Regions from separate parts of the Homo sapiens genome. Here region 2 is linked to region 1. Evidence: fine-mapped expression QTL. A gene starts in region 1. The other region holds a variant in brackets. All regions are shown on one strand. Distances are between the middles of the regions. Region 1 holds the start of SNU13 (small nuclear ribonucleoprotein 13). Region 2 overlaps PMM1 (phosphomannomutase 1).

The links. PIP is the estimated chance that this variant, and not a neighbour inherited with it, causes the effect.
Region 2: its variant is fine-mapped to the expression of SNU13 in monocytes after interferon gamma (Fairfax 2014, PIP 0.93).

What each region holds. Positions count from the first base shown.
Region 1 is chr22:41,680,164-41,695,737 of GRCh38, forward strand. It overlaps SNU13 (small nuclear ribonucleoprotein 13), which reads right to left and starts at 8,704. Exons shown (of 3, transcript NM_001003796.2): 1 at 8,631-8,704; 2 at 81-201. The coding sequence starts at 8,633. It also overlaps the pseudogene C22orf46P. RefSeq lists enhancers at 7,904-8,073, 8,624-8,803 and a silencer at 8,185-8,384.
Region 2 is chr22:41,570,198-41,585,771 of GRCh38, forward strand. PMM1 (phosphomannomutase 1) reads right to left here. Exons shown (of 8, transcript NM_002676.3): 3 at 14,330-14,406; 4 at 14,084-14,175; 5 at 13,762-13,861; 6 at 8,609-8,684; 7 at 7,611-7,726; 8 at 6,703-7,243. The coding sequence ends at 7,121. It overlaps CSDC2 (cold shock domain containing C2), which reads left to right. Exons shown (of 4, transcript NM_014460.4): 2 at 1,646-1,944; 3 at 3,458-3,580; 4 at 4,536-6,469. The coding sequence starts at 1,769. The coding sequence ends at 4,698. Among named protein-coding and RNA genes, the nearest start is that of PMM1, 12 kb to the right of the region's middle. The variant T/C (reference allele first, on the strand shown) is at 10,271.

The DNA.
Region 1 (15,574 bases):
AAACTGGAAATCAGATCAGAGGCCCCAGATGGAAACAGGTGCCTTTAACATTCCCCCAGAGCATCCTGTGGCTGCCTTACCCTCATTGGCTCCTTTCCGAAGCTGCTTATAGTTACATGACTGCTGAACGAGGTCCAGTAGCTTCTTGGTGAGGTGGGCATCGGCAAGGGGATAGGCCTTTGGATTCACATCAGCCTCAGTCTATGGGGGGGACATAAAAATATCAGACAAATTGAGCCAGAAGTTTTCCTACCTGAGTCACAAAATACTAATCAACAATTGAGACACAGGGGGCAGCTGCCCTGCTCCCTAACCCTCAAACACACAAAACACCAGGTAGTTAACAATGGACTTTCCACTCCTACCTTCGAAAAAAAGGAAATACACTATTAGGAATTACACAGTTCAGTAAAGTATACTAAAGCTCATGTACTTTTGTCTTTCTTCAGCCGAATGTTTGATAATATTACAGCAAATGGATTACAAACGGGTTCCCATGGCTCCGCATCCATTTGAGTCCATGGCTAATCCATTTCTGTTTTTATTTTTTAGATGGAGTCTTGCTCTGTTGCCCACGCTGGAGTGCAGTGGTGCGATTTCAGCTTACTGCAATCTCTGCCTCCCGAGTTCAAATGATTCTTGTGCCTCAGCCTCCCAAGTAGCTGGGACTATAAGCGTGCACCACCATGCCAGGCTAATTTTGTATTTTTTGTGGAGACAGGGTTTCACCGTGTTGGCCAGGCTGGTCTCAAACTCCTGGCTCACGCCTGTAATCACAGCACTTTGGGCGGCCGAGGCGGGTGGATCACCTGAGGTCAGGAGTCCATGGGTAATCTTTAAATTTGAACTTCCGTATTCCACCTGAATTTACTGAATCAATAAGATATAATTTACAGTAAATGTAGCACAAAGTTTTCTTTCCATTCCCCACTCCATATGCGTATCTTCTGTTCAAACCCATGGTTTCCAACACATTAAAGTATTTCCTCACCTCCTCTACAATACACACAAAATGGTTCCAAAATTGCTACACCAATATACCACCTCTACCAACAAACTCACCAAAGTCAAAATTTATTTTTGTTCTTAGGATATATCCTATCAAAGCCATCCAGTGGCAGGACTTTGTTCAAAAGTTATTCAAATTAAAATTTTCCTTGTGGTTAGCAATTTGGTATACAAGTAGATTTATTTTGTAGTCAGCTTGCTTTAAATTTTATTTTTCAAATATGTAAAATATCTTCATGGTTTAAAAGTCAAAACTATGCAAGTGATAGCAACTCAATATTTTGAAAACTGGGAAAGGGAAACAATCATCTTCTGTGCCTTTCCTAAATGCTGTATTAGGCGGTAACCAGGTAGAAGATGAGAAGTACCTCTTGTATCACTCTTCCGCCTAATAAATAAAGAGGGAATGGTACAGTTAAATATCACCAACTTGCAACCCTTATTAACTAATTAATGGCATTTGCAGTTATGTTAAAAATTCTTACTTTATAGATATATACTGTAATACTTATGGATAAAATGATGTCATTCAGATCTGTGTCAAAATAACCCATGTAGGGGACGAGCGCGGTGTCTCACGCCTGTAGTCCTAGCTACTCGAGAGGCTGACGCAGAATAGCTTGAACCCAGGAGGCGGAGGATGCAATGAGCGGAGATGGCGCCACTGCACTCCAGCGTGGGCGACAGAGCGAGACTCCGTCTCAATAAATAAATAAATACACACCCATGTAGGGAGCATATTGGGTGAGTGGCCTGCCTATTCCGCTCCTTCCATCTCATTCCCACTGCTCCAGTAAATCATTTTCATTAATTTTTCTCTTTTTTTTTTTGTTTTTACAAACACATATTTATATACAAGGATATATTCATATTATAACCCAGGTGCGGCCCCACATGTCGCCATCGTGTGTAACGTGCGAATCGCGAGTGATTCACTGCGGCTACCACCTAACCTCGGCCTTGGAGGCTGGACATAGGGTGGACGGCAGTCGCTGGAGACGGAGATGGCCTGGTGGGACCACTCATCTATAGCGCCTGCCTCGGTGGTCTCCTGCCCGACACCGCGCACCTGCCTTTTCCTCCTTCCGTTTTTTTACAGCTTTTCTGACACAGCGGGACCACGCTCGCGGCACCACAGCTCTCGGGAGGTGACCCGGAGATAATGGCCCAGTAGGAACACTCACCATAGCGTCTGTCTTGGTAGTCTCTTGCCGGACACCGCGAGGATACCACGCGTGTCGGTTTGGACGGTCTGCTGCCCAGCACCGCAAGGACACGGATGCCCCGCCCCCAAGAGCAGGAAGTGACGCCACTGCCGCCAGCGGAAGTGACGTCCAGGGCCAGCCCGTACACCAGGACGCCCTGTCTTCTACGTAACTCCTTATCTTAGGCGAATTTGTCTTGGTCCCAGGACAACTAGGAAGAATTAGGTGAAGGATGGAGGAGTTCTCTAAAGGAAGGGGGTTGGGGGAGGTCAAGGGAAGACCTCCATATTATTTTTCTCTTCCTCATACATTTATTTATTTAGAGACGGAGTCTCCCTCTGTCGCCTAGGTTGGAGTGCAGTGGCGCGATCTCGGCTCACTGCAGCCTCAGCCTCCTGAGTACCTAGGATTACAGGTGACCGCCATCACGGCCGGCTGATTTTTGTATTTTTAGTAGAGACGGGGTTTCACCACTTTGGCCAGGCTGGTCTCGAACTCCTGATCTCAGGTCATCTGCCTGCCTCAGCCTCCCAAAGTGCTGGGATTACAGGCATGAGCCACCGCACCTGGCCATCCTTTCTTTTTAATGTCTATAGAGTATGTCTCCTTCACATGTTACCTACTTAAACATTTTCTTTTTTGAGACAGGGTCTCGCTCTGTCACCCAGGCTGGAGTGTAGTGGTGGCATCTTGGCTCACTGCAACCTCCTCCGGGGTTCAAGCGATTCTCCAGCCTCAGCCTCCAGAGCAGCTGGTACTACAGGCATGCACAACCACGCCCGGCTAATTTTTCTGTATTTTTAGTAGAGAAGGTCTTTCACCATGTTGGCCAGTCTGGTCTCCCAATTGCTGACCTCAAGTGATCCGCTTGCCTTAGCCTCCCAAAGTGTTGGGATTACAGGCGTGAGCCACCGTGCCTGGCCTTATTTTTTCGATTAATCTTTCTGAGGGGGACTTTCCTGGGCTCAAGTGGTCCTCCTGCCTCAGACTCCCAAGTAGCTGGGACTACATGCATGCACCACCACGTCTGGCTAATTTTTTAATTTTAGAGGCACTGTCTTATTATGTTGTCCAGGCTGGTCGTGAACTCCTGGCCTCAAGCAATCTTCCTGCCTGGGCATCCCAAAGTACTGGGATTACAGGTGTGAGCCACTGTGCCCAGCCCATTTATATATTTTTTAATCTTTCACTATTATGTAAATGCTATAATGTCTAATCTCATCTATACCTAATCTATATTATGTTTCATTCAGTATATCTGTAAGATAAACTCCTAGAAGTGGGATTAACGAGTCAAAAGATATAATATGCATTTGTAACTTTTATATCTATTCTAAATTGACCCTATATAGGGTTTAACAACTTGCACACCCACCAGCAATGCATGACAGTGACTAATTCCCCAAAACTTTGACAACAGTGTCAAACTGAACTAGCTTCGTTGCCTGGGGTAAATATCCAGGGTTTGTTGTCTCATGCCAAGAAAATTTAGGACATGGACACACAGGAGTTTAGGAGCAGGGTTTTTTTTTGTTGTTTTTTTTGAGATGGAGTTTTGCTCTGTTGCCCAGGCTGGAGTGTAGTAGTGCGATCTTGGCTTACTGCAACCTCTGCCTCCTGGGTTCAAGCAATTCTCCTACCTCAGCCCCCACCAGTAGCTGGGATTACAGGTGCGCGTCACCACACCGGGCTAATTTTTGTATTTTTTAGTAGAGACTGGGTTTTGCCATGTTGGCCAGGCTGGTCTCGAACTCCTGACCTCAGGTGATCTACCTGCCTCGACCTCCCAAAGTGCTGGGATTACAGGTGTGAGCCACTGCGCCTGGCCGGGAGCAGAGGTTTAATAGGCAAAAGAAAGAGAAAGAACAGCTCTCTCTGGTGAGAAAGAGGGGCTTCGGAAAGGAAAAGACCCAGCAGTATGCTCTACTTTCTATTTCAGCAATTTCTCCTTTTGTTTTTTTTCTTTCCTTCTACTTTCTTTGGGGTTATTTTGTGCTAGTGTTTTTTTCTACCTTTTTATCCCGTTTCTCCCTAGCATTAGCATCTTAGGCTCCAAGTAATACTTTCATTATATCCTTTCATTTGTTTCTTCCCCCCTCTGCCCTTGTCACTTATGCTCTGGTATGTGGTATTTTCATTATTGTTCTGTTCTATTTTTGAATTCCTACTACAATTTTTAAATCTCTCTGATAGTTTATATTTTTCATTTCAAACTACTTTGTTACTAATTTTTAACTTATTTCCTTTTGGGTTAGGCAAAAATGGTATGTAATATTACCAATGTTAAAATTTGCAGGGCTTGCTTTATGGCCAATTTTCAAAAACGTTCCATGTTTGAAGAGTGTATTCTGAACTGGCTGCAGTGGCTCAGGCCTATAATCCCACCAACTTGGGAAACTGAGGCTGGGGACTGATTGAGGCCTGAAGTTTGAGACCAGCCTGGGCCACACAGTGAGACCCCCATCTCTAAAAATATTTAAAAACTTAGCTGGGGCAGTCCAGGCACAGTGGCTCACACCTATAATCCCAGCACTTTGGGAGGCCAAGGTGGGTGGCTCTCTTGAGGTCAGGAGTTCAAGACCAGCCTGGATGACATGGTGAAACCCCCGTCTCTACTAAGAATACAAAAATTATCTGGGTGTGGTGGCAGGCACCTGTAATCCCAGCTACTTGGAGGTTGAGGCAGGAGAATGGCTTGAACCCGGGAAGCGGAGATTGCAGTAGGTTGAGATGATGCCACTTCACTCCAGCCTGGGCGAAAGAGTGAAACTCCATCTCAAAAAAAAAAAAAAAAAGAATTACACCCTTTTTGTTGTTGAGACAGGGTCTCACTCTATCACTGAGACCAGAGTGCAGTGGCATGACAATAGCTCACTGCAGCCTCGACCTCCAGGGCTCAAGCGATCCTCCTGCCTCAGCCTCCTCAGTAACTGGAACTACAAGTGTGGGCCACCACTCCTGGCTAATTTTATTTTATTTTATTTTTTATTTTTTGAGACGGAGTTTTGCTCTTGTTGCCCAGGCTGGAGTGCAGTGGCACAATCTCGGCTCACCGCAACTTCTGCCTCCGAGGTTCAAGCAATTCTCCTGCCTCAGCGTCCTGAGTAGCTGGGATTACAGGCATGCGCCACCATGCCCGGCTAATTTTTGTATTATTAGTAAAGACGGGGTTTCACCATGTTGGCCAGGCTGGTCTTGAACTCCTGACCTTGTGATCCGCCCACCTCAGCCTCCCAAAGCGCTGGGTTTACAGGCATGAGCCACTGCACCCGGCCAACTCCTGGCTAATTAAAAAAAAAATTGTTTAGGCTGGGTGTGGTGGCTCACGCCTGTAATCCCACCTCTTTGGGAGGCTGAGGCAGGCAGATCACTTGAGGTCAGGAGTTGGAGACCAGCCTGACCAACACGGCAAAACCCCGTCTCTACTAAAAAAATACAAAAAATAGCCGGGCATGGTGGCACATGCTTGTAATCCCAGCTACTCGGGAGGCTGAAACAGGAGAATCGCTTGAACCAAGGAGACAGAGGTTTCAGTGAGTCAAGATCGTGCCACTGCACACCCAGCCTGGGTGACAGAGCGAGACTCTGTCTCAAAAAAAAAAAAAAAAAAATTTGTAGAGACAGGATCTCACTATTTTGCCCTGGGTGGTCTCCAATTCCTGGGCTAAAGAGATTCTCTCGCCTCAGCCTCCCAATTTCTGGGATTGCAGGCTTGAGCCACAGTGCTTGGCCACATCCCGTCTTTTAACTGGAGCACTCAGTCCCTTTACATATTTAAGTATTGGTATAATGGTTTCAAATTTTCCTTCTTTTGTGCCTTCTATTTGTTCCACTTGTTCTGTTTCTTTTTCTTTCTTTCCTTTCTCTGGATTTATCATTGCATTTGCACTATTTTCCCCTCTACTGATTTGGAGTTTATTCTTTTATCTTTTTTTTTTTTTTTTAAGAGACGGCATCTCCCTCTGTCGCCCAGGCTGGAGTGCAGTGGCGCAATCTCGGCTCACCGAAACCTCTGCCTTCCATATTCAAGGAATTCTCCTGCCTCAGCCTCCCGAGTAACTGGGACTACAGGCATGCACCACCACGCCCAGCTAATTTTTGTATTTTTAGTAGAGATGGGGGTTTCACCATGTTGGCCAGGTTGAACTCCTGACCTAAGGTGATCCACCCGCCTCGGCCTCCCAAAGTGCTGGGATTACAGGTGTGAGCTACCACGTCCGGCCATACAAATGTTTTATTTGATACTACAGTAGGGATTTTTTTTTTCTTTGACACAGTCTTGCTTTGTCACCCAGGCTGTAGTGCAGTGGCATGATCTCGGCTCACTGCAAACACCGCCTCCCCGGTTATAGTGATTCTCCTGCCTCAGCCTCCTAAGTAGCTGGGATTACAGGCACGCACCACCACGCCTGGCTAATTTTTGTATTTTTAGTAGAGATGGGGTTTCACCATGTTGGTCAGGCTGGTCTTGAACTCCTGACCTCATGATCCACCCGCCTCAGCCTCCCAAAGTGCTGGGATTACAGGCGTGAGCCACCGTGCCCAGCTGGAAATTTTGGTTAATAATTTATCACAAGTTTTATTTATTTATTTTTTTGAGACGGAGTCTCAAACTGTCACACGGGCTGGAGTGCAGTGGTGTGATCTTGGCTCACTGCAACCCCCGCCTCCCAGGTTCAAGCGATTCTCCTTGCCTCAGCCTCCCAAGTAGCTGGGATTACAGGTGCCCACCACCACGCCTGGCTAATTTTTTTGAATTTTTAGTAGAAACAGGGTTTCACTATGTTGGCCAGGCTGGTCTCAAACTCCGGACCCCATGATCCACCCGCCTCAGCCTCCCAAAGTGCTGGGATTACAAGCATGAGCCACCGCGCCTGGCCCTGTTGCATGTTTTAAAATAGATATACTTAGAAATATTACATGGAACCCCCAAAGTATGTACAACTATGATATGTCAATTTAAAAAAACTTTAAAAATTGCCATTGTTTCCAACAACCCATTCTCTGGAAATCAGGATTCTCAAATCTCAATAAACATCAAATTCATAAAAGAGGAAGACTTCAGGAATCTGAACAATCATTAAATACCTAAATGTTTCACTATTAGTCAACAAAAAAGTTAAACTCAATTTTAAAACCAAACTAGCTTATAAACACTAATTGAAACTTGCTTAGGGTGTATTTATTTGCCTTTCAATTTCTTCAGGGGTTAAATAAATTAACGAATGATATCATACCACCAGCCAACCTAAATCCCTACCTAGCATGATCAGTTTGGTTTCGCTGTACACCAGACAGCCAAAACTTGCAAGGTTTTGATTGAACAACAAATACTGCGTGCTTACTCTGTACCAAGCATCAGGACTAGATGTTTACCATGCTTTATTTCATTTGATCCTCACAACACCCTCATGCACTGTCATCCCCATTTTACAGTTGAGGAAAACTGCAAAGTTCAACCTGAGACCATCCGATTCCAAAACGTTTCAGGGAGCTGCGTTAAAGCGAGCACTGAGTTTGGAAGCTTCAAGTTCTAGGCTCAGCCACGTACTAAGCTTCAAAATGCATGGGAGGAGGTTTGTGGGGAGTGCTACCGCCGGGATCCAAGCTCCACTGGAAGGATTAACTATAGAAGTTACAGTGCTTTACAAATTCTTCCCTCCTCACCAAGTGCCAACCAAAACTACTACGCCAGGACACACGTTTTAGAACTTTCCCTAGATGTTTAAAAGTCAGAGACGACCAAGAGTTTAGAGACGCCGCACGTGGTGCTACCAGACTTCTGGTTTTTGAAGCCACCGCCTTGCAGGAGAAGCCTTTCCTGCACTCCAGGCCGTGAGTCGCGCTCACTTCATGTTCCCCACAGCCCCCAAATGCCAAAGGCTCCTCTAGGTCCCTGGCGCGTGTGACTCGCGGCGGGCACTAAGCGCAGACCCATGGGAGATCTCCTCCTGAACCCCAGCAACGGGGGTGGGGTGAGGTAGGGTGGGTAGGAGAGGTTGATCCGAATCCCAGGGTCCCACGCCATCGTAGATTTCGTATGAAAAGAAACAAGGAAAAAAAAAAGTTGGAGCCAAGTTTTCTTCACCCAACTTTTTGCCCTCTCCCACGTGGGTTGGTCTCTTTCTCCCAGGCTGGGCCATGCCCCCTCCGCTCGCTGCAGGCCTTTTGCCAAGCAAACAGACCGTGCGGCAAAGCAACACAGCTGCGGGGATCCTAAGGTTTCCTGAGTTCTAACCTCGGGCCAGGCTGCTGGGACCCCGCCGCTGCTGGGGTTCTAACTAAGGGCCCGGCGGTTAAGACCCAACGCCGGCGGATGAGACGGCGCAGGCTCTAAGCCTCCATCTAACAGGCTAGGGAGTGAACGCAACCCTGAGTCTCCCGCTTCCCGGTCCCTCGGCCGGCGCACGCACTCACCATGGCTGCGGTTCCGCGGGCTCAGCACTCCTAGGGGAGCGCAGCTGACGTTTCAGAAGCACTCGCGTGCACCGGAAAAACTCACAGAAGCAGCAGCGGAAATGGCCCCGCGCGGCAGGAAGCGAAGGTGACGCTACGCGAGCGAGTGGGCCCCGCCCTCTACGGGGGCACTGGCGCGGAAACTGGCCCTGTGTCGAAGAAGGAACGTACTTTGGCGTTCTTATGAGCTGCCTAGTACAAATTATTGGCAGAAACAATGAATTAAACATTCAAAAAGTAACCCACCGGCCGGCCGCAGCGGCTTATGGCTGTAATCCCGGCACTTTGGGAGGCCGAGGCGGGCGCATCACCTGAGGACAGGAGTTCGAGACCAGCCTGGCCAACATGGCGAAACCTCGTCCCTACTAAAAAATACAAAAATTAGCCAGGCGTGGTGGCGGGCGCCTGTAACCCCAGCTACTTAGGAGGCTGAAGCAGGAGAATCGCTTGAACCCCGGAGGTGGAGGCTACAGTAAGTTGAGATCATGCCACTGCACTCTAGCACTCCAGCTGAGGCGACAGAGCGAGACTCTCAAAAAAAAAAAAAAAAAGGCCGGCCGGGTGCGGTGGCTCCCGCCTGTAATCGCAGCACTTTGGGAGGCTGAGGCAGGCGGATCACTAGGTCAGGAGATCGAGACCATCCTGGCTAACACAGTGAACCGTCTCTACTAAAAATACAAAAAATTAGCCGGGCATGGTGGCGGGCGCCTGTAGTCCCAGCTACTCGGGAGGCCGAGGCAGGAGAATGCCGTGAACCCCGGAGGCGGAGCTTGCAGTGAGCCGAGATCGCACCACTGCACACTGCACTCCAGCCTGGGCAACAGAGTGAGACTCCGTCTCAAAAAAAAGAAGAAAAAAAAGAGGGCCGGGTGCGGTGGCTCACGCCTGTAATCCCAGCACTTTGGGAAGCTGAGGCGGGCGGATCACCTGAGGTTGGGAGTTCGATACCAGCCTGACCAATATGGAGAAACCCCCGTCTCTACTAAAAATACAAAATTAGCCGGGCGTGGTGGCGCATGCCTGTAATCCCAGCTACTCGGGAGGTTGAGGCAGGAGAATCGCTTGAACTTGGGAGGTGGAAGTTGCAGTGAGCCGAGATCGCGCCATTGCACTCCAGCCTGGGCAACAAGAGTGGAAACTCGGTCTCAAAAAAAAAAAAAAAAATTCCAGCCACTAAACAGTTAAGGCCTGGCTCATTATAATTGGCTGACGTCCCTGCCTGCTCAGATATTTAATATTTTGAATAGAACTTTTGGGTAAAAGAGTCTTCAGGGTAACATTTATTTTCCCACCAACACTGATCCTAAGATGGGAAAAGTAATTCCCCCACAGGAAATCAGGATACTGCAAGCAACGAGAAAGGCATGTTGAGTGGTTAAACAAGAATACATGTATTCAATACAGTGTTCATTAAATGTTTGATAATAGAAGGACAGGCAGATCCAAGTATTTCATAGGAAGAAAGAAATCAAGCAGACCGCAGGTTATATCACCCCATCACACATTCAGGGAACTTAATCTTTTCATTCCAGAGGATGGGTTTGTTTAAAACAAGTTCTTCCTCCTAATTACTTTTGAACAATTCCCCAATACTGTCCTTACCTGCACCAAGAGCATGCTAACCAGGCCTGGCACCAGGGTCAGAGTTGAGGCTGGGGCATCAGCCCCCTTTGTGAGGTGGCCTCAGTGACAGGGGTGCTATGAGGTGGCGGCTATCCTACTGCAGCTGGCTGCATCAGATGTGCCAGGCCTGCCCTCTAGCTCCCAACACCATCTGCCTGATCTAAGCTTTGCCATGTTGTTGTCACTGCTGGGTGCCTGTGCTGTGGTGGGGCCATTCCATGGCCCTGAGTGGGAGCCAGTGCAGGGCCTGCTCTCCCAGAATCACAGCTGCAGGGACCCTCAGTGCTGTGGCAACCTGCTTGTCCTCTGCCTCTTTCTGGTCTGGCAGGTCCGGCACTGTTGGCACCAGGTCACCAGGACCCGCTTCAGCACAAGGAATGTCATCAAGGTGAGTGGGCCCCATACACCTTCACCCTTCTTCCCTCAGCACCATGATTGTCTCTGTCACTTGTTACAAGGACCTTGTTTTATGCCTGGTGTACCAGAAATGAATCAGAGGGAAACTCAGGCTGCTCAGGGAGAGCATCGGCCAAGCCCCAAACCCAGGAGTCACCCTGAGCTCCTCTCTTTCCCTCACTCCACACATTCAATCCATCTGCAGGTCCCAGGGGCTATACTTGCAAATTGTATCTCAAATCTGATCACTTCTAACCACACCACACCCTCCTGGGCAGAGACACCATCATGTCTCAACTGGACCATAGCAACAGCCTTCTGCCTGGTTCTTGCTGCTTCTCTTATCCAACCACAGCCTATCCTCCATACAGTCACCAGAATGGCCTTCTTCTTTCTCTCTCTCTCTCTCTCTCTCTCTCTCTTTTTTTTTCTGAGACAGAGTCTCACACTGTTGCCTGGGCTGGTGTGCAGTGGTGTGATCTTGGTTTGCTGCAACCTCCGCCTCCCTGGTTCAAGCGATTCTCCTGCCTCAGCCTCCCGAGTAGCTAGGATTACAGGCGCCCGCCACCACGCCTGGCAAATTTTTTTTTTTTTTTGTACTTTTAGTAGAGATGGGGTTTCACTTTGTTGGCCAGGCTGGTCTCGAGCTCCTGACCTTGTGATCTGCCTGCCTCGGCCTCCCAAAGTGCTGGGATTACAGGTGTGAGCCACTGTGCCTGGCCTCTTTTTTCTCTCTTTTAAAAAAAAAAATTGGTCCAAGGATAATACACACACACAATTACAAGTGTGTAGATCAGTAAATTTTCATAATTGAATACATCAGTTTGTAGCATGCAGATTAAGAAACAAATGATTACCAGCAGCCCAGAAGTTTTAGTCACAACTCTGCGGATTTCCTTTTCTTTTCCTTTTTTTTTTTTTGAGATGCAGTTTTGCTCTTGTTGCCCAGGCTGGAGTGCAATGGTGTGATCTCGGCTTACCTCAACCTCTGCCTCCCAAGTTCAAGCAATTCTCCTGCCTCAGCCTCCTGAGTAGCTGGGATTATGGGCATGCACTACCACACCCGTTAATTTTGTATTTTTAGTAGAGGCGAGGTTTCTCCGTGTTAGTCATGCTGGTCTCGAACTCCCGTCCTTATGTGATCCGCCTGCCTTGGCCTCCCAAAGTGCTGGGATTACAGGAATGAGCCACCACTCCTAGCCAACTCTGCAGATTTCTTTCTTGTTTTTCTTTTTTTTCTTTTCTTTTTTTTTTTTTTTTGAGATGGAGTCTTGCTGTGTGGCCCAGGCTAAAGTCCAGTGGTGCGATCTCGGCTCACAGCAACCTCTGCCTCCCAGGTTCAAGTGATTCTCTTGACTCTGCCTCCCTAGTAGCTGGGATTACAGGCATGTGCCACCACGCACAGCTAATTTTTGTATTTTTAGTAGACACAGGGTTTCACCATGTTGGTCTGGCTGGTCTCGAACTCCTGACCTCAAGTGATCCACCCACCTTGGCCTCCCAAAGCGTTGGGATTACAGGTGTGAGCCACCACGCCTGGTCGACTCTGGATTTCTTTCTTTCTTTCTTTCTTTCTTTGAGACGGAGTCTTGCTCTGTCACCCAGACTGGAGTGCAGTGGCGCGATCTCGGCCCACTGAAAGCTCCACCTCCCGGGTTCATGCCATTCTCCTGCCTAAGCCTCCTGAGTAGCTGGGACTACAGGTGCCCGCCACCATGCCTGGCCAATTTTTTTTTTTTTTTTGTATTTTTAGTAGAGACGGGGTTTCATCGTGTTAGCCAGGATGGTCTCAATCTCCTGACCTTGTGATCCGCCCACCTCGACCTCCCAAAGTGCTGGGATTACAGGCGTGAGCCAGTGCACCCAGCCTCTTCTTTTTTTTTTTTTTTCAGATGGAGTCACGCTCTGTCACCCAGGCTGGACTGCAGTGGCGTGATCTTGGCTCACTGCAACCTCCGCCTCCTGGGTTCAAGCAATTCTTGTGCCTCAGCCTCCTGAGTAGCTGGGATTACAGGCATGCGCCATGATGGCTGGCTAATTTTTGTATTTTTAGTAGAGAAGGGGTTTTGCCATGTTGGCCAGGCTGGTCTGGAACTCCTGACCTCAAGTGATCCACCCATCTTGGCCTCCCAAAGTGCTGGGATTACAGACATGAGCCACCATGCCCTGCCATCAGAACAAACTTTTAGAAACAGAACATAGCACTTAGCTGCTCAAAACCCTGCAATGGCTCCTATACTTACATTATCTGGCAAACTCAGAATAAAATTCTCGCTCCTAATCACGACTCTAAGGACCAGCATAATCTGTCCCATGTTTGTCTCCGATCTTATCTCCCAGTGCTCTCCTCATTACTGGTTCCATTCTGGCCACACAGTCTTCTTTGCTGTTCCTGTACATGTAATTTTGTTCCATCCTCAAGCCTTTGTACTTAATGTCTCTTCTGCCTACAACGCTCTTTCCTCAGATGTCACTTGGTTTGCCCCTTACTTCATTCAGGCTCCAGTCAAATGTCACTTCCTCCAAGAAGCCTTTCCTGACTATTCTGTCTGTGCGGATTATGCAAGTTATTATGTGTGCAAGGATTTTGCTTCTCTGTTCTCATCTACAGGTGCCACTGCAGAAGCGGGCAGTGCCCTCCATGAGGTGCGAAACTGTCTTCAAGCTGACTCCTGAATTCTTCAGTCCTGGAAAGTCCAGGGGCCTAGATTCTCAACAATGCGCACAAAGGCAGAGATGGGGATACCGGAGGAGCCTCCAGGAATCATGGGCCCAGAACCTGCTCTCTCCACAGCACCCATGTCCAGGCCCACCTTCGGGTGTCCACACCCACTCTGAGCCCATCTTTTGTACCACCTCCATTTCAAACACCTGTTTACTGCCTCAGAACAGTTCCTGGAAAGCATGGCAGGTGCCTTGGTGTCTCCATGATGGTCAGACTCGCCCTGCCTTGGACATGTGTCAAGAGATGGAGCAGCTGCTGCTTCACTCACAGGAAAGGTTGGTGTCACTGGAGCCTGTCATCAGTGTGAGGTCTCGCCCCACCTCCATGACCTTAACCACCTCTCTTCCAAACTTACTTTCAGCTGAGAGGCTGCAGTTCTGCCCCCAGAGAGCTCCTGCCTGATCCTTCCCACCAAACACTGAGAATGTGCACTTGGAAGTCTTGGCACTGTCGACCAGAGGCCTGGGAACCAGGGGGTAAAAACCAGAAAGCAGGCAGAGAGGATAGTAGAGAGACCCAGGCTCCAAGGTGGGTGAACCAGACAGGGAGCAGACGGGAGGATGCTTCAGAAATCCAGGCATCTGGGGAGTAGTTCCCAGTAGACTTTGGAATGGAGGGTGATGCAGAGACTAACGTGTTGGAGTGTGCAAACCAGAGACTAGTAATAAGTGAAACTGATGGCGAGATCTTGACACCAGGGTGGGACACCCAGGACCGGATGGGAGTTGAGAGTAGAACCAACATTCAGGAACTAGGGAATAGAAACCAGAGGGAGGCTGGAGGTGAGAATCTCCCTGAAACCCAGGCACATATGGGAGAGAACCAAGAACAGTTAAGATGTAAAATTGATGCAGAGACCCAAACACCTGAGTGGGAGAACCAGGATAAGAATGGAAGTGAGGATGCTGTGGAGACCCAGACATTTGAGAAGAAGGACAAGAAAGAGGCTGGAGAGGAGGATGGGGAAGAGATCCAGGCTCAAGGATTGGGGAAGCAAGGCCAGACTGGAGATGAGAATGGTGAGGAGACCCAGACACCACAGTGGGAGAAACAAGATCAGATGAAAGGTGATGCGGATGTGGAAATTCAGATGGAAGAGGGGAGAAACAAGGATCAGGTTGGAGGTCAGGATGCTGCACAAACCCAATCATGTGGGAGGGAGAACGTGGGAGAAGTAAAAAAAGAGAATAGTGTAGAGACCCAGGCCTTGGATTGGGGAAAACAGGAATGTGTTGGAAATGGGAATGTTACAGAGATCCAGACACCAAGGTGGGAGAAGCATGATCAAGGTGGAAGTAAGAAAGCTAAGAAGACCCAAGCATCTGGGGGAGAGAACCAGAAACAATTAAGTCATGAAATTCAAGTGGGGTGGGGAAATAAGGGCCTGAGAAGAGATGAAGATGCTAAGGAAACCCAGATAGCTACCAAGAAGAAGCTCAGGGAGATAAGAGAAGGATTGGGTGGTGATCCAGGCACTATGGTGGGGAAACCGGAGACAAGTAGCAAGTGAAATTTATAGAGAATTTGAGATACTATGTTGGGAGAATCAGAACTGGATTGGAGGTGAACATAGAGCAGAAATTCAGGCATCAGAGAAGAGAGACCAAAGAAAGGATGGATGTGAGGATGGCACAAATATCCTGGCACCCGAGGCTGAGATCCAGGAACAATTAAAAGGTGAAACTGATGTGGAGACTCAGAGCAATGAGCCACTTAGAGAAGAGGATGGTACAGACATTCAGTCACTAGGGAGGAGAGAGGTTAAAGGTGAGGATGATAAAGACACCCAGGAACTTGGGAGGAAAAATCAGGGTCAGTTAGGAAATGAATTTAGTGGAAAGATTCACATACCAAAGGGGAAGAATCAGGAACATATTAGAGGCGAAGATGGTGCACATACCCAGATATCTGAGTCAGGGAACTGGGGCAAATTAACAAGTCAAATTGATGGAGAAATGCATTCAGCAGAATGGAAGAAAGATCAGCAGATTGGAGGTGAGAATGGGGCAGAAATTCAGATACAAGGGAAGAGAAACCTGAGAGAAGTTGGAGGTGAGGACGGTGTAAAGACCTGGGCACCTGGGAAAGAAACCCAGAGTCAGTTTAGAAGTGATCTTGGTAGAAAGATCCTTTTATCAGAGTGGAAGAGCCAGAAGCAGAT
Region 2 (15,574 bases), 110 kb before region 1:
CACTTCAGCCTTTTCAGGGTTGAGGGTCTGTGAGGCAAGCCAAGCCCGGGGCTCCAGTGCCTTCCTGACTGGAGGGGGAGGGTTTTGGGAGGAGGGAGGATACTACTCCACCTCCACCCCTAGGCATGGCAGAGCCAGCTCAGCATCTTGGTTCAGAAAAATTCCACTTGCTGTATAATCTTGAGCAGAGGCCAGAAGACCTGCTCCAGTGGACTCCTGGACTCATCCAGGCCTGCCATGCAGGGTGTTCAGGCTTTCTGAGCTCTGGACTCCAAGGAACCTTACAGGAACCTTGTGGGTGATTTTCCTTCCCTGGGAACTCCAAGCTCTGGGGTGGGAGGGGTATAAATTGGAGGCCACAGGCCTGTAACCCCAGCATTTTGGGAGGCCGAGGGAGGTAGATCAACTGAGGTCAGGAGTTCGAGATCAGCCTGGCCAACATGGTGAAACCCCGTCTCTACTAAAAATACACAAATTAGCCAGGCGTGTTGGCAGGCACCTGTAATCCCAGCTACTTGGGAGGTTGAGGCAGGAGAATCACTTGAACCTGGGAGGCAGAAGTGACAGTGAGCCGAGATCACACCACTGTACTCCAGCCTGGGTGACAGAGTGAGACTCTGTCTCAAAAAAAAAAAAAAAAAAATTAGCTAGGTGTGAGGGTGCATGCTTGTAAATTCCAGCTACTTGGGAGGCTGAGGTGGGAGGATCGCTTCAGCCCAGGAGATGGAGGCTGCAGTGAGTCATGACCATGTCAGTGTTCCCCAGACTGGATGAGACCATGTCTCAAAAAAAAAAAAAAAAACAAAGGATCAATGCTAGCCCCATTTTACAGAACAGAAAATAAGAGTCAGAAGTTAAGAGTGTTGACCAATGCGCTGGACGAGTTGGCTCATGCCTGTAATCCCAGCACTTTGGGAGACCAAGGTGGGCAGATCACCTGAGGTCAGGAGTTCGAGACCTGCCTGGCCAACATGGTGAGACCCCATCTCTACTAAAAATACAAAAAATCAGCCAGGTGTGGTGGCAGGCGCCTGTAATCCCAGCTACTCAGGAGGCTGAGGCAGGAGAATCGCTTATACCCAGGAGGCAGAGGCTGCAGTGAGCCGAGATCGTGCCAATGCACTCCAGCCTGGGCAACAAGAGTGAGACTCTGTCTAAAACAAAAAAAAAAATTTGACCAGAGCCAAGGCTATGTAGCCAGAAGGTGGAGGATGCAGGATTCAAACCCAGGCCTGGGTGTGGAGCCCATACTCCCACCTGCCATGTTGGAGCTGATGTGTGGCTTGGCTTGCTTGAAGTCACCAAGTTGTAGGTGACAAAGCTAAGGTTTGAACCCAGATGTGTGACTCTGAAACAACTGACCCTTATGCCGAACCATATTCTAGACCATCACTGGCCACCCTACCCAGCCACCTCCCAGGCCCCTGGAGTTAAGAGAATTGAACTGCAAACTGGAAGGACTTAGGGGTCATATGACCCCTAGTTTTGTTTTTCTGGTGAGGACTCTGAACCACGATGGGGTCGTTTGTGACTTGAAGTAACGCCGTGAGGATAGCAGGTGGGACCAGCCCTCCTCACTGTGGCCAGGGTTCAGGAGCTGCTCCCCTGGACTAGGCTCACCTGTGCCTCTTTCTTCCTCTTCCAGACGGAGCCCGTGGCTGGTGAGGCCGCAGAGCAGGGCCAGGCCGGGCCCTGCCCGCAAGGACGACCAAACCCCTCACCGGCCCCTGGGCCCCAGAGCCCACCAGGCTCTCCTGCTGGCCCCACCATGACTTCAGAGTCGACGTCACCCCCAGTTGTGCCCCCGCTCCACTCCCCCAAGTCCCCAGTCTGGCCCACCTTCCCCTTCCACAGGGAGGGCAGCAGGGTCTGGGAGCGGGGTGGTGTCCCACCTCGGGACCTACCCAGCCCTCTGCCCACCAAGCGGACCAGGACCTATTCAGCGTGAGTACCTGCCCCTTGCCCAGGCCCCTGACCCTTGTCAGGACAGGGGCTGACCATCCCCATCCTCTTCCAACTCCTGTTGTCCTCACCTGGGACAGGGGAACTGTGTGTGGACCTTCCAGTAACTGGATGGATGTTTGTCCCATACATCCATTCATCCATCCACCCATCCACCCATCCATCCATCCATCCATCCATCCATCCACCCACCCACCCACCCACCCACCCACCCACCCACCCACCCACCCATCCATCCATCCATCCATCCATCCATCCATCCATCCATCCATCCACCTGTCCATCCATCCATCCATCCATCCACCCACCCATCCATCCGTCCATCCATCCGTCTGTCCGTCCATCCATCCACCCATCCATTCATCTATCCATCTATTCCACAAAGATTTACTGAGCTCCTGACCAGTCAGGATCCATAAGCTGCTTACAATCCAGAGGGAACTTGTTCACCATCCATTACCACCCAGCAGGGTTAGGGGTGAGGACCCAGCATGGGGTACCAGAGGAGATGATGTCCTGGTTGGGTATGGAAGATGTATCAGGTGAAGAAGGGAGCTGGCGATTCTGGGCAGATGGTACAGCATGGGCAAAACCCAAGACACGGAGTTAACCTTTGGAGAGGGGTAGGTAGGCGGGACAAAGACTAGGCCTGGGCCTTTGGGGTAGGTCACCGATGAGGTGGCATAGGGGAGTAATACGGGTCCATATGGGGGAGGCCAAAGGATCTTTTGGGAAGGACAGGGTCTCGCTCTGTTGCCCAGGCTGGAGTGCAGTGGTGCAGTCATGGCTCACTGCAGCCTCAACTTCCTGGCCTTCAGCAATCCTCCCACCTCAGCCTCCTGAGTAGCTGGGACGACTGGTGCGTGCCACCACCCCCAGCTCATTTTTTTAAAAAAATGTTTGGGCCAGACATGGTGGCTCATGCCTGTAATCCCAGCACTTTGGGAGGTCGAGACAGGTGGATCAGTTAAGGACAGGAGATCAAGCCAGTATGGCCAACATGGCCAAACACTGCAAAACCCTGTCTCTACTAAAAATGCCAAAACTTAGCTGGGTGTGGTGGTGGGTGCCTGTAATCCCAGCTACTCAGGAGGCTGAGGCATGAGAATTGCTTGAACCTGGGAGGTGTAGGTTGCAGTGAGCTGAGATTGCACCCCTGCACTCCAGCCTGGGTGACAGAGAAAGACCCTGTCTCAAAAAAAAAAAAAAATTTTTTTTGTAGAGATGGGAGTCTCCCTATGTTGTCCAGGCTGGTCTCAAACTCCTAGGCCCAAGTGATCCTCCCGCCTCAGCCTCCCAAAGTGCTGGGATTACAGGTGTGAGCCACCGTGCCTGGCCTCATTATCGTTGAATGGGGATGACTGTGTGGTTTCTGGCCTGGGTCAAGTTTCTCACAGCCCTGAGGCACGCTCAGCAGAAAGGGCCCAGAATGGCTGTAGGGATCCGGGGAGGAGTTCCTCAGGCCACAGCTCCAATCCCACTACCCTATCTCCAGGACAGCCCGGGCCTCAGCTGGCCCCGTGTTCAAGGGCGTCTGTAAGCAGTTCTCACGCTCACAGGGCCATGGCTTCATCACCCCCGAGAACGGGTCCGAGGACATCTTCGTACATGTGTCTGAGTGAGTCCCCTCCACCTCCCTGTTCTTGGCCCCTGCCCTAGTGTCCCCAATGGTGCCTCAAAAATGGCTCTCCAGGCCTCTCCTCTCACTGGCTGAGGTCTGTATTCATGGTGCCTTTTCTGTCCTCTGAGTAGGGGCTGAGGGTGCGTTGGGAGAGGAGGGCTGGGGCCAGGGAGGGAGTGGGCACGCAGACCCCAGAAGCCTGGGAGCCAGCGGCTGGGCCCTGGATCCTGTTACAGCATCGTGGAGGTCTGAGAGGGCTAGGCCAGCTCCTGAGCCTCTTGGCCTGGAAAGGGCCTTCATGTGGGTGGGCCAGGAGGTAGAGATGGATATCATGTCTAGGCCTGGCCCCACCCACTTCTAATGCCAGGAGGACCGGGGGAGGTCACTGAGCTTCTCAGAGCTTTAGGGACCTCCCCGTGCCCTTTCACATCTCGGTCCCCAAGGGACCCAGAAAGGGAGGTACAGTTTATGAGTCCCATTTTATTTTATTTTATTTATTTTTTGAGAGGGAGTCTCGCTCTGTCGCCCAGGCTGGAGTGCAATGGCACAATCTCGGCTCAGTGCAACCTCCACTTCCTGGGTTCAAGCGATTCTCCCACCTCAGCCTCCCAAGTAGCTGGAATTACAGGTGCCAGCCACCATGCCTGGCTAATTTTTGTACTTTTAGTAGAGCCAGGGTTTCGCCATGTTGGCCAGGTTGGTGTCAAACTCCTGACTCAGGTGATCCGCCCGCCTCAGACTCCCAAAGTGCTGGGATTACAGGCGTGAGCCACTGTGCCCAGCCATGAGTCCCGTTTTACAGATTCGAGAGCTGAGGTTCTGAGAAGCAAGGCCTGGCCAGGCCTCCTGGCCTAGGGAGGCTTAGGGCCAGGCTGCCCCCAAGGCCAGGCCACAGGATTGTCTGGGGCACAGGGCCTGCTGCTGGGCTAATACCCCTCTTCCTGCCCGCCAGCATCGAGGGGGAGTACGTGCCAGTGGAGGGCGACGAGGTGACCTACAAGATGTGCCCTATCCCTCCCAAGAACCAGAAGTTCCAGGCCGTGGAGGTGGTGCTCACTCAGCTGGCCCCCCACACTCCCCACGAGACGTGGTCTGGCCAGGTCGTGGGCTCCTAGGCTGAGTGGTTCACAGGCCAGCTGGCCGGGGGTTGGGGAGCCACACAGGGTGAACGGGCAGCAGCCGGCTCCATGCCCCACTGCCCTGGCTGATGAGTCCTTCGGTGGCCTCAGTGTGCACGTCTGTCTGTCCGTCTGTGCTTGTGGCTATGAGCGTGTGCCTCCACCCACCCCACGACCCGTGACTACTGTGCAAGCTGGCCAGGAGGTAGGTGGAGGGCAAGGCCACCAGACCTGGCTTCGCGCTGTCCACTGCCTCTCTCCTCCCCTCCCTGCCGCAGACACGCAGGACCCGCTCGCCCTCCTGCTTACCCGTCCCCACGGTGACTGAGCTGCGAGAGCCTGCGCTGGGCTCACTCCCTGGCCTCCGCCCCTGAGCTGTCCCGTGTCAGTCCCTGGCCCGGAGCCAGGCTCTCTGTGCTACTTACATCTCCCTCCCTTGGCTGAGGTCCCCCGCCACAGCCTGGACCCTTCCCTCAGAAGCCTGGCCGATGGGTGCTTTTGGGGAGCCTCTCAGCCTCTGGCAGGGGAGGAGGACTGACACGGAGGCACACAGGCCTCTCACTGCCGAGGCCAGCCTTCCTTCCTGCTCTGCTCTCTCAGTGCCATGGAGAGGCAGGAAGAGGGGCCTGAGGGCGGAAGGGGTTTGGGGCTCCCATTTCGCCGGCCAGTCCCTCCTCCTCAGCCTGGCAGTGGCGCTGGGCTCCTTCCCCTGGGCTGTACTGAGCCGAGCCCAGGGGTTTGCAGAGGGTGGGGGTCCATCTCTCCAGCTTGGCTGCAGACCTCCTTTACCCTGACTCACAAGCCCCACTGATGCTCTGGGCCATGCCCGGCTGACGGCTGCTGTGGATGCCGCGAGGGACGGACACACGTCCGGGGCACCCACGAGGAGGGCCCCCAGCCTGGGAGACTGGCCCTGCGGCCTCCACGTCAAACTCTCTTCCCAAAGCCCTAACAGACCAGTGGCCGAGGTGTGGCTCTTATTGCATCCATCCCTGAAGATGTGTGGCTGTTGCTGTCACCTGGAGTCCTTTTGGGGCCAAGATGTGTGTGCACCCGGGGTCGTGGCCATTCACTCCCAGGCAGGGGTGAGGGTGGCCTGGCCCAGGAGGCCAGGAAGGAGGGCCCTGTCTGCCTCCACCTCTGGGTGCACCCCCTGCCTACCACCCTCCCTTCTAGAGAGCACATCGCCTGACCGGGGAGAAGTGGGGCCGTGGTTCGAGGGAGGGCTGGCCAGGGGTGGGACCCTTATGAGACTCAGTCTGTGAGTAAAACTGGGGGCTCAAATGCCCAGGATGAGGGGATCAGTGACTGTCTAGGAGGATCCCTTGCCTTGTAGGTGCCCCAAGACCGCAGGGTAGAAATCAGCCGGGATGCCTGCATCCCACCCCCGGCCCCAGGGCCCACCACATAAAATCTGGGAGCCCAGAGCTGCTGAGGTGTGGTCAGCTCCCCTAAAATGGGCACGGCCCAGCCTGTCCCATGAGGAATAAAGGCCCCTGGCCCCCTTGAGAGAGGGCTTGTTGGTGAGGGCTGACTCCTGGGGGCCCCCAAGGCTCCCCTCCTGTGGGGAGGCCACCTTTTAAGGCACCACTAGCAGTCAGGATATGGTGGCATCAGCCCTGGGGCCTCCTGGGTGGCAGGGGGGCAGCAGCTCTCCTCCCCACTCACAGGCCCTGCAGTGCTCATTTGGAATTCCTCCCAAGACCCCTGGCCACCCAGACCCCCCATTCTTCCTAACACTGGCAATAAACCCTCAACTGTGACCCACCGTGGCCTGAAGCTGCCTCTGTGTCAGGGTCCCCAAGGAAGGGGCTGGGGGTGGACACACCAAACCAGCTCTTCTTTGGGGATTCAATGGCCCCCTCCTCGACTGCATCAGACTTCCTTTGTGACCTGGGCCAAGTCCCTGCCCTCTCTGTGCTGTTTACTTGTCGGCAAAGTAGTGGCTGTGACAGCATGTGACTGGGGCCAATTATCCATTCAGACACAGCTGACACCTACTTTGTTCTGGGAACTTTAATACTGTGACAAAGTTCTCTAAAATAGGCACCTTCCCCACCGTACCTCATCGCCCAGGGCAGGCAGGCAGGGCAGGCTAGATCTCGTACCGATACTTGAGCACGCCTCCTCCTGGTGCAGAAAGAAACCTCTTCTGTACCGAAATACAAGCAGCAGCTGTGGCCTGGGCCACCAGGTGGAGCATGGGGAACACTCTGGGCCCTGGGAGGACGAAGCCAGTGCCACTAGGAGCAGACTGGCTGGGGACGGTTGTCCACACAGACTCTGGCCCCATCTGGGTGGGCTTGCAGCAGGCGTCCTGGGCCAGAGGAGGGGCCCTGGCATCTATCCAACACCAGGACCTCTCTTTAGGCCTAGGCCAAACTCTTCAGAAGTCACGACACACAGATGTGGGCCCCGGTCACGCCTCATGAGCTGTCTCTGGGAAGAAAATCTCCCGGCATCGCTGCACCGTGTCCTGAGGAGACACCACGCTGTGGCCAACAGTCCGGGGGTCGGCAAAGATCTCAAAGTCGTTCCCACCCTGCACACAGAGGATGGGCAGAGGAGGGATATTTAGGTGGAGTCCCTCTCCACATTGGCTGCTACGGACCTGCCCCTCCTCCTGCCCCTTCAGAACTGCCAGGAAGCCCACCTTCTCACCCCTTGTCAGACCTGCCCTGACTTGCTGTGTGATGTAGAACAAGTGCCCAGCCTCTTGGGGCCCCAGCTTTCCAATCTGTGTAACGGGGCTGGTGAGCAATGGTTGTTCTCCAGGAGCCCCCTAAGAGGTCTGTTGTGTTGCCCCATGTTCTGGCCTTGACCTCAGGTGATTTGCATTGGAGAAGCCACCAGACCTGGCTTCTCACTGTCCACTGCGTTAGGGGAAACCTGGGGTGGGCCACACTCACAGGGCTAGTCTCGTTCCCAAAGAAGTGGATGGTGTCGAAGCTGTCCTGGTCCAGGCTATCCAGGCAGTAGCGCTTGTCCCAGCCCTCGGGGAAGACGTCAAAGCTGATCATGCCTCCTGTGGGCAGGGGTGGGGACTGTTATTCCCTGCTGGGAGGGGCAGACAAGGCTAACAGAAGGGCTGCTTGTTCATTCATTCATTCAACAACCCTTGAGTGCCTACTGAGGGCCAGGAATAGGACACGGGACAGACTTAGGATCCTCAAGGAAGTTATGACACAGGTTGGAGAATGAACAAGACCATGAAGTGGGTGGGGGAAGCTCATCCGGCCAGGGTGATCAGGGGAGACCTCTGAGGAGGTGGCAATGAGCTGGGACCTGAGCCGAGTGGGGATGGCTGGGGCGCAAAGTACAGCCCCTGAGGCAGGGAAGAGAACGAGCGTCCCAGCAACGGAGGAGGCCAGGAGAGGTAGGGGGAGGACGGGCAGGCCCTGGGCATCACATGGAGAGGGAGGAAGAGCCTGGGGAGGACTTTGGGCAGAGGCATGTCATGACTCCAGCTCCAGCCTCTCTGGCCACTGGGGAATGGGTGAGGTGGCAGAGGGGAGCCCAGTTGTGTCAGGGTCAGTTGGAGCCTGGGACAAGCTGCTGGCAGTGGAAGTGTGAGCACCGGTGGGATTCCAGACAGGGGGCCCTGTGACTTCTAGGAGTTTGGACTTGGGAAGGGGTGGGGGAGAGCATTCAAGGGAGAGGCTCTGGTTTTTTGGCCTGAGAAACTGGGTGGGCATGGGGCGTTTACCTCTGAGGTATGAGGTGGGGAAAACTGGGGGCCAGTAAACACTGAACCCCTTTCTGCATCGGGCTCAGCCACCCTCTCTGCCCTGAGCCGGGGAGGGGCTACTAAAGCTACTGGGGGCCACAGCCTGGTCTTGGCAGGGGCAGATGGTTTGAGGAGGGGCCCTGTACCAGGCCTCCCAGGTCCTCTGCAGGGTGGACGTACCTCGAGAGAACCTCAGCCCTTTGCCAGCAAACTCTGTTTTCAGGGCTTCCACGAACTTCTCCCGGATCTTCTCTTTCTGCAGAGGGGAGGGAGCGGATGGCAGCTCAGAGGACCTGCTGTGTGCCAGGCCCTGGCTGGGCACACAGTCCACGTGAGCGTGCTGAGCATTCTAGGTGGGTAGGACCCCCAACTGTGCAGATGCGCAAACTAAGGCTCAGAGAGGGGTTGTGCCTTGGTCAAGGTCACCTAGCCCTGGTGGCAGAGCCAGGGCCTAAATCCAGAAGGGATGGGGCTGCCAATGGGGCTGTGGGCTGGGTCTTCTGAAGGAGACCTCAGAGGAGAGACACGAGTAGGAAGGGCGAGGAGACGGGGCAATCTGGATCCCACATCAGTGTCCACCTCAGGGCAGGGCTCGATCCTGTTATCTGTAACCAGCTCAACAAAGCAAATACTCAGAAATGAGCATGGGAGCTGAGAGCAGGAGACCTGTGAGGAGGTGGCTGTGGGCATTCACAGAGGGCAGCAGGATGCCAGGCATGGCAGAGCACCCAGCATGCAAAGACGCGGCTGGGCTGGGGACTAGGTAGTGCCCAGGCCGGCCCCGTCCCTCTGAGCAGGAACTCTGGCAGCAGCTCCGCAAACGTGGAGCAGGGGGACATTCTCCCCGCCAGCCCCCAGGATCTCCATCTCAGAGGGCCACAAAGGGGAGCAGCTATGCCCAGTCTGAGGGGCAGCTGAACATCTAAACCAGCCAGCAGGACATTCAGCTGACAGAGGGTCTCGAGACCGGGCTGGGAAGTCTGACCACATCCTGGGGGACCAAGAGGCGCTGAGGATTCTGGAGCACAGGAGTGGGGTGGCTGGTATGGCCCTGTAGTCAGAGCCGGGTAGGACTGGGGCGGAAAGGCAGGCAGTGGTCAGCAGCATGGAGCTTGGAGAAGTGGCCCAGGGAGGATGTCAGATATAAAGCCAGACACCCCCTAGCCTGAGATCTGAAGGCAAGTAGCCAGGCTTGGCTACTGTACTCCTCAGCTGTGTGACCATGGGCAAGTCACCTGACCTCTCTGAGCCTATTTCCTGGACTAAAGGACAGAGAAGTAATGAATGACCCCTGCCTGCTTCCCTCTCATGGAAAAGCAGAGATAAGGGATGTGAGCCCCCTGCCAGCCTTGGCCTGGCTTTCCAGCAGGTAGGTGGGCCCCAGGGAGGCCAGAGTCCCCACCAGCGTCCACTCTGTAGGCCCAGGGCTACCACTAAGACTGCCCCAGGCTCTGAAGAAATGTTTCCACATGGCCGAGGCTGGCTGCACCTCCCTTCTCTGGAGAACAAGGCTGGTCACTAGACAGCCCCATGTGCAAGGCCAGCCTCAGCAGGGACCGGCACTGTGACCTCGAGCTGGTTACTCACCCTCTGGCCTCAGTGTCCTCATCTAAGGAAGGGAAGTACTCATCCCCGCTTCAGGGTTCTGGAAGATGAGCTGGGTTAAGCATTTATTTACACCAGCTCTGGGCCAGGGCAGGGCGCACAGATCAGGAAGGTTCATGCTCCTCCAGTGCCAGAAGGGAGCAAACAAGAGCCAAAAATACTTGAGAAGGCTCTGGGGTGGGGAGTTAGGGTGTGGCTCCCCAACTCCATGCCAGGTGGGGTCCATGTGCCACCTCA[T/C]CCAGTGCTCATGACAGCCCATGGGATGGGAACTGCTATTACCCCCACCTTACACATAAGGAAACTGAGGCACACGTTAGTAAAGATGCTTTTCCAGGTTACAAGGCAAATGGGTAGAGCTGGGACTGGGAACCTGGGTGGACAGGAAGGGATAACTTCTCAGCACGTGTATTGGGGGGGAAGGGTTCTTTGCCTAAGACCAATCCTAACTACCCCAAAAAAAAAGTCCCCGTGGCCGGGCGCAGCGGCTCACATCTATAATCCCAGCACTTTGGGAGGCCAAGGTAGGCAGATCACTTGAGGCCAGGGATTTGAGACCAGCCTGAACATGGCAAAACCCTGTCCCTACTAAAAAATACAAAAATTAGGCCGGGCGCGGTGGCTCATGCCCGTAATTCCAGCACTTTGGAAGGCCAAGGAGGGCGGATCACAAGGTTAAGAGATCGAGACCATCCTAGCCAGCATGGTGAAACCCTGTCTCTACTAAAAATACAAAAATTAGCTGGGCGTGGTGGCAGGCGCTTGTAGTCCCAGCTACTTGGGAGGCTGAGGCAGGAGAATCGCTTGAACCCGGGAGGCAGAGGTTGCAGCGAGCCGAGATCTCACCACTGCACTCCAGCCTGGCGACAGAGTGAGACTCCATCTCAAAAAAAAAAAAAAAAAAAAAACCCAAAACCAAACCAAAACCAAAACCAAAACCAAAAAACTTAGCCAGGTGTGGTGGCATGGGCCTGTAATCCCAGCTACTCAGGAGGCTGAGGCAGGAGAATTGCTTGAGCCTAGGCAGCGAAGGTTGCAGTGAGCTGAGATCATGCTACTGCACTCCAGCCTGGGTGACAGAGCAAGACTCTATCAAGAAAAAAAAAAAAAGTCCCTGTGCCTGTGGGCACTGCCTCCCCTAAGCCTCAGGGCACAGGTGGGAGTCAGGAGTCACTGAGCTGAGAGGCACCCTCAGGGAGGCACCAGAGGGCCAATGGCAAAATCAAATCTTTGCTCTGCAACCAACTCCCTATGTGACCTCGGGCAGGGCCCTTCTCATCGAGCCTTGGTTTCCTCATTTATAAAATGGAGATAATACAGCTCATTTCATTCATTCAAAAGGTATTTCTTGCCGGGCACAGTGGCTCACACCTATAATCACTTTGGAAGGTTGAGGTGGGTGGATTGCCTGAGCTCAGGAGTTCGAGACCAGCCTGGGCAACACGGTGAAACCCCATCTCTACTAAAATACAAAATATTAGGCCGGGCACAGTGGCCACGCCTGTAATCCCAGCACTTTGGCAGGCTGAGGCAGGCGGATCACGAGGTCAGAAGATCGAGACCATCCTGGCCAACATGGTGAAACCCCGTCTCTACTAAAAATACAAAAAATTAGCTGGGCATTGTGGTGCATGTAATCCTAGCTACTTGGGAAGGCTGAGGCAGAAGAATCGCTTGAACCAGCGAGTCAGGGGTTCCAGTGAGCCGAGATTGTGCCACTGCACTCCAGCCTGGTGACAGAGCAAGACTCTGTCTAAAAAAAAAAAATTAGCCGGGCGTGGCAGCATGTGCCTGTAGTCCCAGATACTTGGGAGGCTGGGGCAGAAGAATTGTTTGAACCCGGGAGGTGGAGGTTGCAGTGAGCCGAGATTGTGCCACAGCACTCCAGCCTGGGTGACAGAGCGAAACTCAGTCTCCAAAAAAAAAAAAACAAAAAAGGGTATTTCTTTGCGAGGTGCGGTGGCTCACACCTACAGTCTTGGTGCTTTGGAAGGCTGAGGGAGAAGGCCCACTTGAGGCTAGGAGTTCAAAACTGGCCTGGGAGACACAGCGAGATCCCATCCCTACAAAATATTTTAAAAATTAGCCTGGCATGGTGTAATGCACCTGTGGTCCCAGCTACTCAGGAGGCTGAGGTGTGAGGATCGCTTGAGCCTGAGAGATCGAGGCTGCAGTGAGCTAGGACTGGATCACTGCACTGCACTCCAGACTGGGCAACAGAGTAAGACCCTGTCTCAAAAACAATAACAACAAAAAGTATGCCATGTGCCAAGCATAGGGGATCCAGAGGAGAACAAGCCGCAGAAATCCCTCATGGAGCTTACAGTTCTGGGACAGGGACAGACAGTAATTCGGATTTTAAAAGTAGATGATGAAAGTTGTCCAAGGCTACTTGGGGAGAAATAAGGTAGGGGAAGGAGGAGGAAGTGCAGCAGTGGATGTGATACTCTCGGAGGCCCCACTGGGAAAAGGATGTGAAAGGGGATTTGAAGGAGGGGAGGGACGAGCTGGGCCTGAGAGAAGTGTGCTCTGACAGAGGCACAGCACTCTAGAATCAGCCAAGAGGCCATAGCTGGAGCAGAGGGCAGGGAGAGCCACCGAACAGGTCAGAGAGAATGACAGAATGACGTGGACGGGCCAGCATGGAAAGGTCTGGATGGGTGGATTGCTCCATCCCCGAGAGGGAGGGAGGCGGTGGGGAGAAAAGCAAAATGCACATCAAGGTTTAGCAGGGGCAGTACAGGCAGAGGTGAGAGGACCTTGGTGTGTTCCAGGAATAGAAAGTGGAACTTGAAGGGCATAGAAAGGAGACGCGGAGAGCCAGAGCCAGACAGAGCCCTCAGGGCTTGAGGCACCATAGCAGGGGGCTAGGACATCATCCAGTTGGCAACGAGGAGCCAAGGAAGGATTGTAAATGAGGGGGTGGGGCTGGGGGGTGAATGCGGCTGACATGTTTGAAAGGTTCTAATGGGCTGTGCGTGGTGGCTCATGCCTGTAATCCCAGAACTTTGGGAGGCCGAGGCAGGCGGATCACCTTAGGTCAGGAGTTCGAGACCAGCCTGGCCAACGTGGTGAAACCCTGCCTCTACTAAAAAAGTACAAAAATTAGCTGGGTGTAGTGGTGCATGCCTGTAATTCCAGCTACTTGGGAGGCTGAGGCAGGAGAATCGCTTGAACACGGGAGGTGGGAGTTGCAGTGAGCTGAGATCATGCCACTGCACTCCAGCCTCTATCTATTTTTTTGGAGACTCTATCTCCAAAAAGAAAAAGAAAGAAAGGTTCTCAGTGGCATTGCTGGAGAGCAGGCTGGCAGGGCTATGCAAGGGGTAGGGAGGGACAGAGAGGAAAGTTGGGGCAGCCTGGGGCTGGGGAAAGGGGTAATCTAGAAAGTGGGGTCTCAGTTCTGCAGATGAACAGATTTGACACTGACTCGAGAGGCTGATGAAATAAGAGTTGTTGGACCCGATGTGGGTGGGAAGGTGGAAATGATGTTCCCAGGTGTTGGCCTGGCTCAGTGGGTGGCTGCCTGGTGCTGGTCACCTAGGAAGGGGGACCAGCAGCATTGTAAAGATGCAGGTGTGTCTACAACAATGGCACACAGTAGGTGCCTGAAAGGGTATCAGTTAAATCAGAACACATCCCCCAGTCTATTTTACTGATGAGAAAATAAAGGCTCAGATAAATTGAGTGACTGAGGCCCTACAGGCCTAAGATTGCATAGCTAGTGGTACCTTGTCCAGTTCGGAGAACTCGATCCTCTCCTCCAGGGTGCAGCTCCGGCCGATGGGCGAGATGTTCAGCATGCCATTCCGGAACTCGATGAAGGTTCCACTGGTGGTGAGGGAGGGCGGGGAGCCAGAGAGAACCAGAACGGCCCTGAATTCAAATCTAGCCCCACCTGGGACCCCAGCCTCCTAGGACTTCAAAGGGGACAAGAATCCACACTCCCCGCAAAAAATCAGGGGCCCAAGTATCTCCAGGTTCCCTCTGAGGGACCCACACTTCTCCTCCCTCAGGCCCCAGGTTCTGGAGACCAGGCTGGTGGGACCTCACCGCTTCTTGGGCAGCCTGAGCAGGGCCATGTAGCTGAGGCAGAAGTTGATCAAGTCCTGCAGCAGCTCCTCCCCCAGGTGGTTCTGGATGGTCTGGCCAAGGAACACAGGGCTCTGAGCGTGGCCTGGGCTGCCTGACCCTGAGACAGGCACAGTGTCTCTCCCCCAGCCCAGGACAGAAGCCCCCTTGGACTGCTCCACTATGGAAAAGTGGGGTGCCCCTGGCTAAGCCCTGGGGGACACTGACCTGCTTGGAGAGCAGTCGTCCGTGCTTATACTGCACCGTCCCGTTCTCGGCAAACACATAATCAAACTTCTCAATGACTTCAGGGTCACATAGAGGACAGGAGGAAGAAAGAGTGTGAGACCACGTCTGTGACCCCACGGGCAAGTAAAGAGAGAGGAAGCCTACACCCTTGGTTTCACATTCAAAGGCCATTTGTTCAATCTGAGGCTACAACCTGCTTCTCCAGCCTTTCTCCCTCTGCAGCTTGGTTTTCTTCCAAAGAAGCCAGTCACACCTGTGGGCCTCTGCACACAGGCATCCATGCAGGTCCTTCTGTCAGAACCGCCCTTCCCTGGCTTCCCTGCCACTCATCCTCCAAGATTCAGCTTCCTCCTCTGGAAGCCATGCAGTACTCTCTGGCAGAGGGCATCATTTCCACTCTGTGCTCCCCTGCCCCTCTGCAGAGGGGCTCCCTTCTGTTCTATAGCTGCCATCGCACTGGGTTCTCAAGGCTGGCTGCATGGGAGAGTTGGAGGTTTCAGCTCTGACTGCCAGGCGAAGCAGTTGGAGTGGGTGGGAGGTGGGAGGCACAGGGAGCACAGCCCAGAGGCTGTTGCGGGGTCTGGGTGGCACGTGGTTACCTGGACTATGATGGCGTGGTGGAGATGGAGACAGAGGGGACAGGGAGATATTTTGGGGTTTGCTGATGGAATAAACAAGAGGTGGGGAAAAGGAAAAATTCGAGGAAGTTTCTGGCTTGAGGAACTGGAGGCACCCACTTTGACTGGGCTGAGACCAGGGGCTCTGAGGTCCAGTCGATTTCCTGGATAACTTCAGAGTCATCCTCTGTTAAATGGGATGATCACGCCTACTCTAAAGTGTGATTGTGGGGATCAAATGCAATGACATTAACACATGATCATTTTTGACAAATGGTAGCCATCATTGGTTCTGCCCTTTTATTTATTTATTTATTTATTTATTTATTTATTTATTTATTTTTGGATGTGTAGCCTCACTCTGTCACCCAGGCTGGAGTGCAGTGGCCTGATCTTGGCTCACTGCAACCTCCGCCTCCCAGGTTCAAGCGATTCTCCTGCCTCAGCCTCCCGAGTAGCTGGGATTACAGGCACGTGCCAACACACCCAGCTAATTTTTTGTATTTTTAGTAGAGACGGGGTTTCACCATGTTGGCCAGGCTGGTCTTGAACTCCTCATCTCAAGTGATCCATCCGCCTCGGCCTCCCAAAGTGCTGGGATTACAGG